Linked DNA regions of Homo sapiens. The protein of the gene in region 1 purifies or fractionates together with the protein of each later gene. This does not show direct contact. Each region holds a gene or a part of one and is shown on either strand. Other genes may lie near its edges.

Evidence for each region. The genes of interacting proteins can lie anywhere in the genome.
Region 2: the proteins of TCAIM (region 1) and OGDHL purify together in Homo sapiens (affinity purification with mass spectrometry; one large-scale study listed by BioGRID and IntAct). This does not show direct contact.

The regions. Positions count from the first base shown.
Region 1 is NC_000003.12:44,403,882-44,407,962, reverse strand, and holds part of TCAIM (T-cell activation inhibitor, mitochondrial), read right to left. Parts: intron 522-4,081; coding exon 281-521; 3' UTR 1-280. UniProt on the Homo sapiens protein: May regulate T-cell apoptosis.
Region 2 is NC_000010.11:49,733,656-49,738,982, forward strand, and holds the end of OGDHL (2-oxoglutarate dehydrogenase-like, mitochondrial), read right to left. Parts: intron 4,608-5,327; coding exon 4,536-4,607; intron 4,418-4,535; coding exon 4,292-4,417; intron 4,204-4,291; coding exon 4,131-4,203; intron 2,866-4,130; coding exon 2,702-2,865; intron 2,523-2,701; coding exon 2,368-2,522; intron 1,697-2,367; coding exon 1,573-1,696; 3' UTR 986-1,572; downstream 1-985.

The DNA of each region.
Region 1 (4,081 bases):
TGGTGCAATCTGGGCCCACTGCAACCTTGGCCTCCTGGGCTCAAGTGATCCTCCTATCTTAGCCTCCCTAAGTAGCTGGGACCGCAGGCATGAGCCACCACGCCTGGCATATAAAACCTCTCCTAGCAGAAATTAATTTTTTTAAAAAAGTCTACTTTTAAAGCAGCAGTTAGAAACTTTGTTCTTATGTAAATAATACTGTTATATCAAATTGTGGATTTAAATATTTTTAATTTAAGTTCCTTTCTTATCTCTTAAAAAAATAAAACAGATTTCTGTGTTACTTAATGGCTTCTCCATTCTTCCAATTCCAAGGAATACAAAGGTCTCCATCTTGCATAACAGAGTAAAAATGTGAAATGCAGAGGTGCATCCCATGTAGGTAAGGCAGTGATTGTTCTAGAAGTCTCTTACAACAATCCACCATTTGTATACTAGAAATGCTGGGCTCTTTATATAACTTCTCCAAAGAAAATTTCTTTGTTGATGCCTGTATCAATTCATTTTCAATAACCTTTAACCTATTATATAGAAAATAAAAATATTGTCATAAGAACAAATATTGTCATAACCAAACAAAAGAACACACAATGTAAATATATTCTTACATGTTGGGGCCCTAACTGTGCACTCACAACACTGAAAATGCCACCCACAAAGGCCAAATTATACGTTTGGAAGACACGCCAATAGCCATCATTGTTAAATCTTTTGAGTTACTGTCACATGGATCTCTAAAAGTATTTGTTAATGTTTTTAGCAGTAAAGGGCTAAAAATAACATAAATTTAAAAAAGCTCTTATATTGCCTTACCTAGCAGCTGTTAGTGACTGAAGGAAGGAGAAAATGAAGAATATAAAACCCCTAGTTTTAGGACCCACCTAAAGTTTAACCCTTGGGAAGTAATGCTGTCTAAAGATTTCCCAGATAAAAGCAGGCTCACAGAAAACCAGGATCCTGAGGAGGACAGGTTCTCTTCACTCTTACTCTCCTACCTCACCAGCCCCCTGTCTGTTCCCTCCCCTCTGCCTGAGGTTACAACTCTCTTATTCCATCAGGGGCTTCAGTTCAGGTCTACAAAGTATACAACTCTAGGCAGAACTCAGTGTCTCAAATACTTTCTCCCACAGGTGGCAAGTGCTTAGGGATACAGTGTTTTGATAAGTGGATTCAATGTGCTACATCTAGACCAACACATGAGTTACTCAGCAAGCCCATTTAACAACGTGAATAAAGCAAAACTGCCATGGTCGTGTCCCTGAACCAGTCTATTTAAAATACTTCATTGGTTTAAAATGTCCAAATATCTTACATTTAATCACCCTTAAACACTGCATAGAAAAGTAGGTACTATAAAATTTCCATAAACTAGACAGTAAAAAACAGAAATGGTCATAGCAGTTAGTTATCATGGCCTATAATACTGATCACTTTCTTAAGTGCTGTTTGCTTTTTCTGTAAGATTATTCTTACTTAGAATATGCTGCTTAGAGATTCAAGCAGACAGACAGCAGTCAGGGCTGATGGTTCTGCAAATGTTTCACAGCTGGGCCTGCTTCTAATCTCTCCAGGATTAGACAGAAAGAACCCTTAAACTTCTATCAATAGCAGGGGATGAGTAACTTTTTCTGTAAAGGGATTTTTCACTTGTCAAGAAAAGATATTAACAACCATGCTTGGAAGTGAAAAGCCTTGTAGTGTGACCATGTTGCTGCATAGTTCTCCAACAATATATCTTTAAAATCTGGGCAAGACTCTCATTTTCATTCCTTTTAGGAGAAGCCTACAGTCTCATCTCCAGGTTTCCCAGACCCATGGGTCACAAGCTTTATATCAGGAGAACCCATCAGTTCTTCTGAGGTACAATCTTAGAGAAGCATTGAGAAGGCAGCCCTTGTTAAGGTTGCCCAGGGTTGTCCCCTCAACAGGAAAATAACGTGTACCAGCCTTTCCTCATCCTTGGGTGCCTCTGCAGTCAGCATGAGATTAATTTTTTTTTTTTTTTTTTTTTGAGATGGAGTCTTGCTCTGTCGCCCAGGCTGGAGTGCAGTGGCGTGATCTTGGCTCACTGTAACCTCTGCTTCCCAGGTTCAAGCGATTCTCCTGCCTCAGCCTCCCAAGTAGCTGGGATTGCATGCATGTACCACCATGCCCGGCTGTTTTTTCTATAGTAGAGGCAGGGTTTTGCCATGTTGGCCAGGCTGGTCTTCAACTACTGACCTTAGGTGATCCACCCGCCTCAGCCTCCCAAAGTGCTGGGATTACAGGTGTGAGCCACTGTGCCTGGCCTTGAGATAGGGTCTTGCTGTTGCCCAGGCTGGAGTATCACTGTCGTGACCATGGTTCACTGCAGCCTTGACCACCCAGGCTTAGGCAAACCTCCTGCCTCAGCTTCCCAAGTAGCTGAGACTACAGGTGCAAACCACCACACCCAGCTAATTTTTAAATTTTTTGTAGAGACGAGGTCTCACCATGTAGCCCAGACTGGTCTTGAACTCCAGGGCTCAAGTGATCCTCCTGCCTTAGCCTCCCAAAGTGCTGGGATTATAACTGTGAGCCACCATGCCCACCCTTTAGTCATTGTTTCTACTACATGCAAGTATCAGAACTACTTAAACACTCTTCTATTACTGTACATTTTGATTGTTTCCAACTTATTTAAGTGATTTTAAAATTTGAAATATATGATATAGAGTAAAAGGAAACATCTGAGTGGGTTACTATAAAAACATAAAGTGAGGAATGCCCCTGCTAGGGAGAGCTGGTTGATTCTCAGGTGCAGGTTACTCTGGGTTATTACCACCCTACAGAAGAACTGTGAACTAGGTTATCACCAGCCTCCAAAGGACTGGGGGTTCCACAGGCAGCAAATACTGTCTATATGCCAGCCAGGCAATGCCAAGAGACAGGAGCTACAAGTCACACAGTTTTGGGATGGTCATGTGGGTTGTACATACTAGCTTAGAATAGTGTGGGTTTTTTCCCTTTTTCTAACTATTCAGCAAGCTGAGAGTCCAGCAGAGCTGCTACTGTGAGGACCCTGTGAGCATGGGTGGCCTCTGGCTCCTTTTCTTTTGAACTAGAACAGCTGAGAGCTTTAATCTTTTTTATTAGGTTGGTGCAAAAGTAATTGCAGTTTTTTGCCATAAAAAAATGGCAAAAACTGCAATTACTTTTGCACCAACCTAATAAAAATAAACTATGTTTCCACTTAAGAATCCACCTTATAAGTGAAAAAGTATCTGAAAACCACTCTCTAGGAACATGCTTCACTGAAGGAAAGAAGTTAGTCTTCATCACTGCTCTTCGAATATAATGAAGGTGTCTTACTAGGGCAGGGACAGCAGAGCAAAGGAAGGAAAGACAGCAAAGGCGAGGAGAGGCTCCTGGGCCCAGAGTCAGGGGCATGAGGATGATGACTGAGCAGGAAGGAAGGTTGGGACCAACAGCAAGTGCTTTCTCTTCTTGGGGGCTAAGTATAGGGATGAGGACTCTGGGGCCCAGAGCCAGAAAAAGGCTAAGGAAGCAGGTGAAAGGTCAATCGGTATTTCCTGAAGGCCCCCTGTGTGCCAGGCACCCATCCCAGTTGGCACCGGAGGGAACAAAATAGACTGAAGTCTTCCCTCAGTGGGCTTACCTTCTGTTGGGAAGGAGAGAGAGAGAATACATTAATAAGGAAACAGCAAATTTGCTGAGGTGGATGGAGAAAGGCAGGCCAGCTGAGGTGGAGAGGGGAGTGCAGCAGAGGGTGGGGACTCCATGCTTCGAGTTGTGTGGCCAGAGAAGGTGGAATGTGAGCAGGGCCTGAGGAAGCTGAGATTTCTGAGGAAGGAGTGCCTCAGGCTGGGGGAAGGCACACAGGCCCAGGAGTGGATAACATGTCAAGAGTGCCCGAGGACTATAAAAAGGCTGGAGCAGAACGAGTGAGAGGAGAGTCCCAGGAGCTGAGCTGAGAGAAGCAAGGGAGTGGGCAGAGGGTCTGTGGGCACTGGGCAGAGGAGTGACAGCTCTGACTAGGTTCCCACTGCTGCTCTGACGAGAGTCCACTGCGGGGTTGGGGAGATGCTGAGTGTGGAAGCCT
Region 2 (5,327 bases), on another chromosome or scaffold:
TCAAAGCAACCTCCGCCTCCCAGTTTCAAGCAATTCTCCTGCCTCAGCCTCCTGAGTAGCTGGGATTACAGGCACGTGTCACCATGCCCAGCTAATTTTTCAACAAGCTATTTTTGAGGCTGATAAAACTTAACACTCCACTGTCCAACCTCACGCTGATCGTTCTTTTAGGTTGCTCATGCCAGCCCTATGGTCAGTATTTCTGTCTGTTCCAGAGAGGTTCATCTCTCTTTTCCTCTTCCTTTGAACACCACCTCTTCCAGGGATCCTTCCCTGACACCCACAGCTGTCTGCATTGACTTCCAACATAACTCGTAACTCAATGAATTAAACAGCTGACATGTCTCCCCACTGGACTCCCGATGCGAAAAGCCAGCATGCAGACAGATGCCTTCCACCCGGGCCCTAGTGTCCCGCACGGAGGAAGTGCTCTGAGAAGGGGATAAATGAACACATGATCTGTTCCAAGCAAAACATCCCTCCTCTGTGGCAGCTTCTCCAGTATCTCCACAGGGAAGCAAAACCCACAAAAGGCCAGAGTGGAGAAGCCAACAGACACTACCTGGTGCTCAAATGAAAATCTGGCGTAGTGGCTCACACCTGTCATCCCAGCACTTTGGGAGGCCAAGGCAGGCGGATCACTTGAGGTCAGGAGTTTGAGACCAGCCTGGCCAACATGGTGAAACCCCGTCTATTAATAATACAAAAAAATTAGCCGGGCATAGTGGCGCATGCCTGTAATCCCAGCTACTCAGGAGGCTGAGGCAAGAGAATCACTTGAATCTGGGAGGCGGAGGTTGCAGTGAGCCAAGATCGCACCACTCCACTCCAGCCTGGGTGACAAGAGCCAAACTCCGTCTCAAAAAAATATCCATGGAGGCAGATATTTTCTTCTCTCCATTTTTTTAACTTTCTCCCCATTCCCTACCTTCTCTCAACTGCCTATCCCTCCCCCAGTTTTACAACATGAAATGAAAACAGCAAATCTCTCTGAAGCATGTTTTTATTTCTCTGTGATTTGGTTTTCTACTTTGGTACACATGAGCTGTGGCTGCATTTCACACAGAAGCTGACACATCTCGCAGGAATGCCCCATAAAACAGAGCGCAAACAAATCACCCAGCAGGTTCGCTTCACCTGGCTGTTACTGCTGAACTCCCTACTTCTAAGAGCACAGAAGAGAACATCGCTTTGAATCTACAGATAAGCGAGGGTGGGGCGAGCAGCAGCCAGGGCTGCCGGGATGGGAGCGGCCACAGACACAGGCCCCCGGGTGTCTGTCTTGAGATACAGGTGGAGAAGCCGCCCAAGAAATTCCAGCAAGATGGGAGCAGCTGGGGGATGCTCCAGCACAGTAGCCTGCCTATAGGACTCCTCTGGCTCCCTCAGTCCTGGTAGATTCTGGCATGACACCAAGGCCAGCAGTGCTGGCTCTTGGCCCTGTCACTGTGTCTGTTTTATCCTGGGGCCCCACAGCCCCTCTCCTGGGCAGGAGCTCCGCCCCTCCCCTTTTCATCACCCCCTTGGTCCCCAGCAAACCCACAGCGAGACCTACACAGGTTTTGCCCAGCTCTAAAATGTCTTGCCCTCAAAGGCCTGGAGATTGAAGGCAGTATCCAGAAACTTCTTCAGTGACACCAGGTGAGTGTTCCTGTTTCCTGTGGCTGGTGCAGCCGCTGGGTCCCGGCCAACATACCTGGAGGAGGAGAGACAAGCTAAGGGGAAGGCGGGGCCTAGCCGCCCCCCAACCGCTGCCCTCACTCCGGGACTGCAGGGGGCACGCATCTGAGAACCGCTGACCTCGAAGCCATAGACCCTGCCTTTTGGCCCTGGCACCACTTCCAATGAGCTGCAAAGCCCGGATCAAACTCAGTCACCTAGCCACAGAAGAGTGGGGAGAAACTGTCCCTCCATGTCACTGCACTTGCCCATGAGGACAACAAATGAGGCAACAACTCAAAGACTTTGGGGACAAACATACTTTTGGCTTCTTGGAGTTTCTCAGGACCCTCTCCCATCTTCCCAGGAACACATGATGCCAGTATTGGGAACGCACCATGTGCCAGAGCTAATACATACATCAGATCTAATCTTATCACCGCCCTTTGTAGAGATGCAGGGACTAAGGCTCCAAGGACTACATAACCGGCCTAAGATCTAAGGCAGGAGTTTTGAGACATGTAGCAGGTTCCTTAATACAGTTCTGGCTGCAGAACAAACACAAAGCCAGTACTGATGATGCCCCATCATTGCTCATCACCAGAGAAGGGCAGGGCCAGTTCTGGGTAGCATGGCCTATGGGACAGATGGAGCCAGGACAGAGCCTCAGGGCCGAGGTGAGGGGCAATCAGCGGCCCCACCATGTACCATATGGGCCGTGCGCGCCTCAGGATGGTCATGAAGCGTGGGCTGATGTAGTCATAGTAGCCCATGTTCTTGTGCTCCTCCTGACACCAGGCCAGCTCCGCACCTGGGTACTTCTCTGCCTCCTGCTTGATCAGGTCGAAGGGGAATGGAGAGATCTGGGGAGGCAGAAACAAAGGAGCATAGCCAGAGGAGGGGCGGTATGTCCCCAGCACCCCCGGACAGGAGGCACAGGGCCTCACCGGCCTTCATCTGGCCTGCCTGGCACATTGGCCAGAGCCGGGGCCAGCGACGTGAGCTTGCCCATCACTTGACTGTACAAGGGGTTCAGGCACACCTGCTCCAGGCGCGTGATGGCCACTTTCTCCTCCAGGTCCTGGCTGCTCCGCTCCTTCACCAGGTCATAGTACACCTTTCCCGTGCAGAAGATGAGCCGCTGCACCTGCTCAGGGGCCCGTGCTGCGGCCCCATCTTCAGGAATCACCCGCTGGAAGCTGGTCCCTGAGGGACCAACAGGACATGGCAGAGGCGTTGGTACCCAGAGGGGCTGGGGCAGCTCAGGACCAGGCCTGCATCCCCAGGCTCTCCTTAGCCACTGACACTAACTGCAGGTTTGGACTTGTGGCTGCAGTGGACACCTCTTGAACTAAAAGATGGAGCAGGGGGCAGATGACACCCTGAGCTGTCATAGGGAGAGGGGTGGAGACACCCAAGGGTTGAGCCCTGGAAGCATCACGTTTAAGGTGACCGGAGGTGGGGGTACAATAAGAAGCGCCCTGAAGGAGACAGAGAAGGCAACATGATGGCATCATCCTTTGCCCCAACCTTGCTTCTGCCCAGCTGCGCCCACCTCCTGCAGAGCACTGCAGTCCCCCACCACTAAGCAGATGTCCCAGGAGGCTGCTGCATGCTCCTCCTCTTTCAGCCTGGCAGCTGAGCTTCACCTCCAAGCCCCAACCATTCTTCCTTCCTGAGCCCATGATCCTGACCCCAGGTCACGCACACTGCAAAACCTCTCAGGAAGCTACTGTAGTGTCCTCACATCCCTGCATCTCAGGTGAAGACTCTGGGGTAGAGAGGACAAATGGATCCCAGGCCCTCAAGAGAGAAGCCAGCACAGGGCAGGTAGCCCAGGTAGTCCAGTCCCGACATCAGAGCTCTAACAGCTGCCCACCTGCACAGAGGGGACATCCAAACACACATGGGAGAAAATCCAACCCCTGTCCATGCTGAGGCCCTTCCCAGCCCTCCCTCTACTGCCCAGGACCATTTTCCAAGACAGCTCTGCTCCACCAGCCTCACACCTGTCCTTCCCTGGACATAGTCACCTCTCAGTTGCAACTATAGTGTTTTATCTGATCTGACTCCCAGGGAAATAAGGCCAAAGACTCCTGGAGGGGACACCAGGACCCCAGGGCCTGTAATGTCTGTTTGGCTCATGAATTTTTAAAATGGACAAATGAATGAATGATACTCAATATCTTGCGAACTCAGCAGGCCTCTGCCAGGCCTCGACCAGCCCTGCTAGGGTCTAAGGGGGCCCCAGTGGACTCTACCATGGACGCAACCCACATGACCTGAGCTGGCCCAGGTCAGCCATTGTGCCAACCTCCCAACCCTACTGCTAGTGGGACCATGCCAGGAGCTGCTGCAGGTCAGCAGAGCCACAGGCAGAGGGGAGGTTGGAGAAGCCCCAGAAGCAGAAGCCACACAATGGGCCACCGCCCCATTGTGGGCTACCCCACACACCCAGGCCAGGCACGTACCGGATACCATTTGGTCAAAGCTGGACTTGGCCTCTGGGTGCCTCAGCAGAGATTTAGGTGTGAAGATAATCAGCTGGAAGGGAAATACACGCCCAGCTGCCAGCTGGCCCTGCCTGGCCAGGCCCCCTGCCTGTGACCCCTGCCCTGGGACGGAGACTCACCGGCTTGCGGAAGGGCAGCAGGATCTGCCGGCGCAGCACGTGGAAGTAGTTGGCCGGTGTGGAGCAGTTGACCACGATCCAGTTGCAGTCATAGAGCTGGCTCACCTCGAAGTCCTTGGTGAATGCCTGTGGGGACGAGATGCATATGGCCAGGGTGGCTGTCTGCTGCACCCACACCCTGGACCCCTAGCCCTGTGGGCACAATAGGGCGCGTCCCTGTCCTGGGGACAGCAGCAACACTCACAGGGTAGGCATCCGAGTCATCATTGCTCATCTGCAGGAACCTTTCGGGCCTCGCTGACGAGTGCTCTGGGCCCTGAAAGCAAACGCCAGACAGCCAAGGCTGGACCCCACCATGGGAAAGACATCTGGCCCTGCAGGGACCCCAGGCTCAGGGGAAAGTCTGGAGGGCTTCTCAGCAGAGGTGCCCTCACCCTGGAGCCTGAACCATAGAAAAGAACCAAGAATGTGGAACAAGAGCAGAATGGGAATCCTCAGAGTGGGGTCTGCCCAGAGCTAGCACAGTATGTGAACTTGCAGGGACAGAAGAAAAAGCAAAAAGCCCGCACTGAGACGTGCTTTCTCTGGAATGTCCTGGAACAGTGGCTGCCACTGACTGAGCACCTGCTGTACAGGAGGCAGAGTTCTAGGAATCCCACACGCCTTATCGCTAACCCCCAAAGTAGCCCCATGATGCAGACACTCTTCCCCACTGCACAGATGAAGAGGCAAGGAGAGGGTAAGAAACCACCCATGACCACACAGCCAGGCAGGGGCCAACCCAACTCGGCCTGGGCCTCGCCCACCCTCACCCACACGGACCGCTCTGCTCCATGAAAGCAGCAAGACAAGCCCAGGGGCATCTCCAAGCCAGCTCCTGCAGGACGGGGATGACCCACTGCACAGCTGCCACTTGCCCTCTCTTGGTGGGGACGGCCAAGGACCCAGCCCCCCACACCCAGCCTGGCCCAGATCTGGCCTCCCAAGAAGCTGCCTTCACGGCAGGCAGCCCCAAGCAGGGAGCCTCACCTCCCTC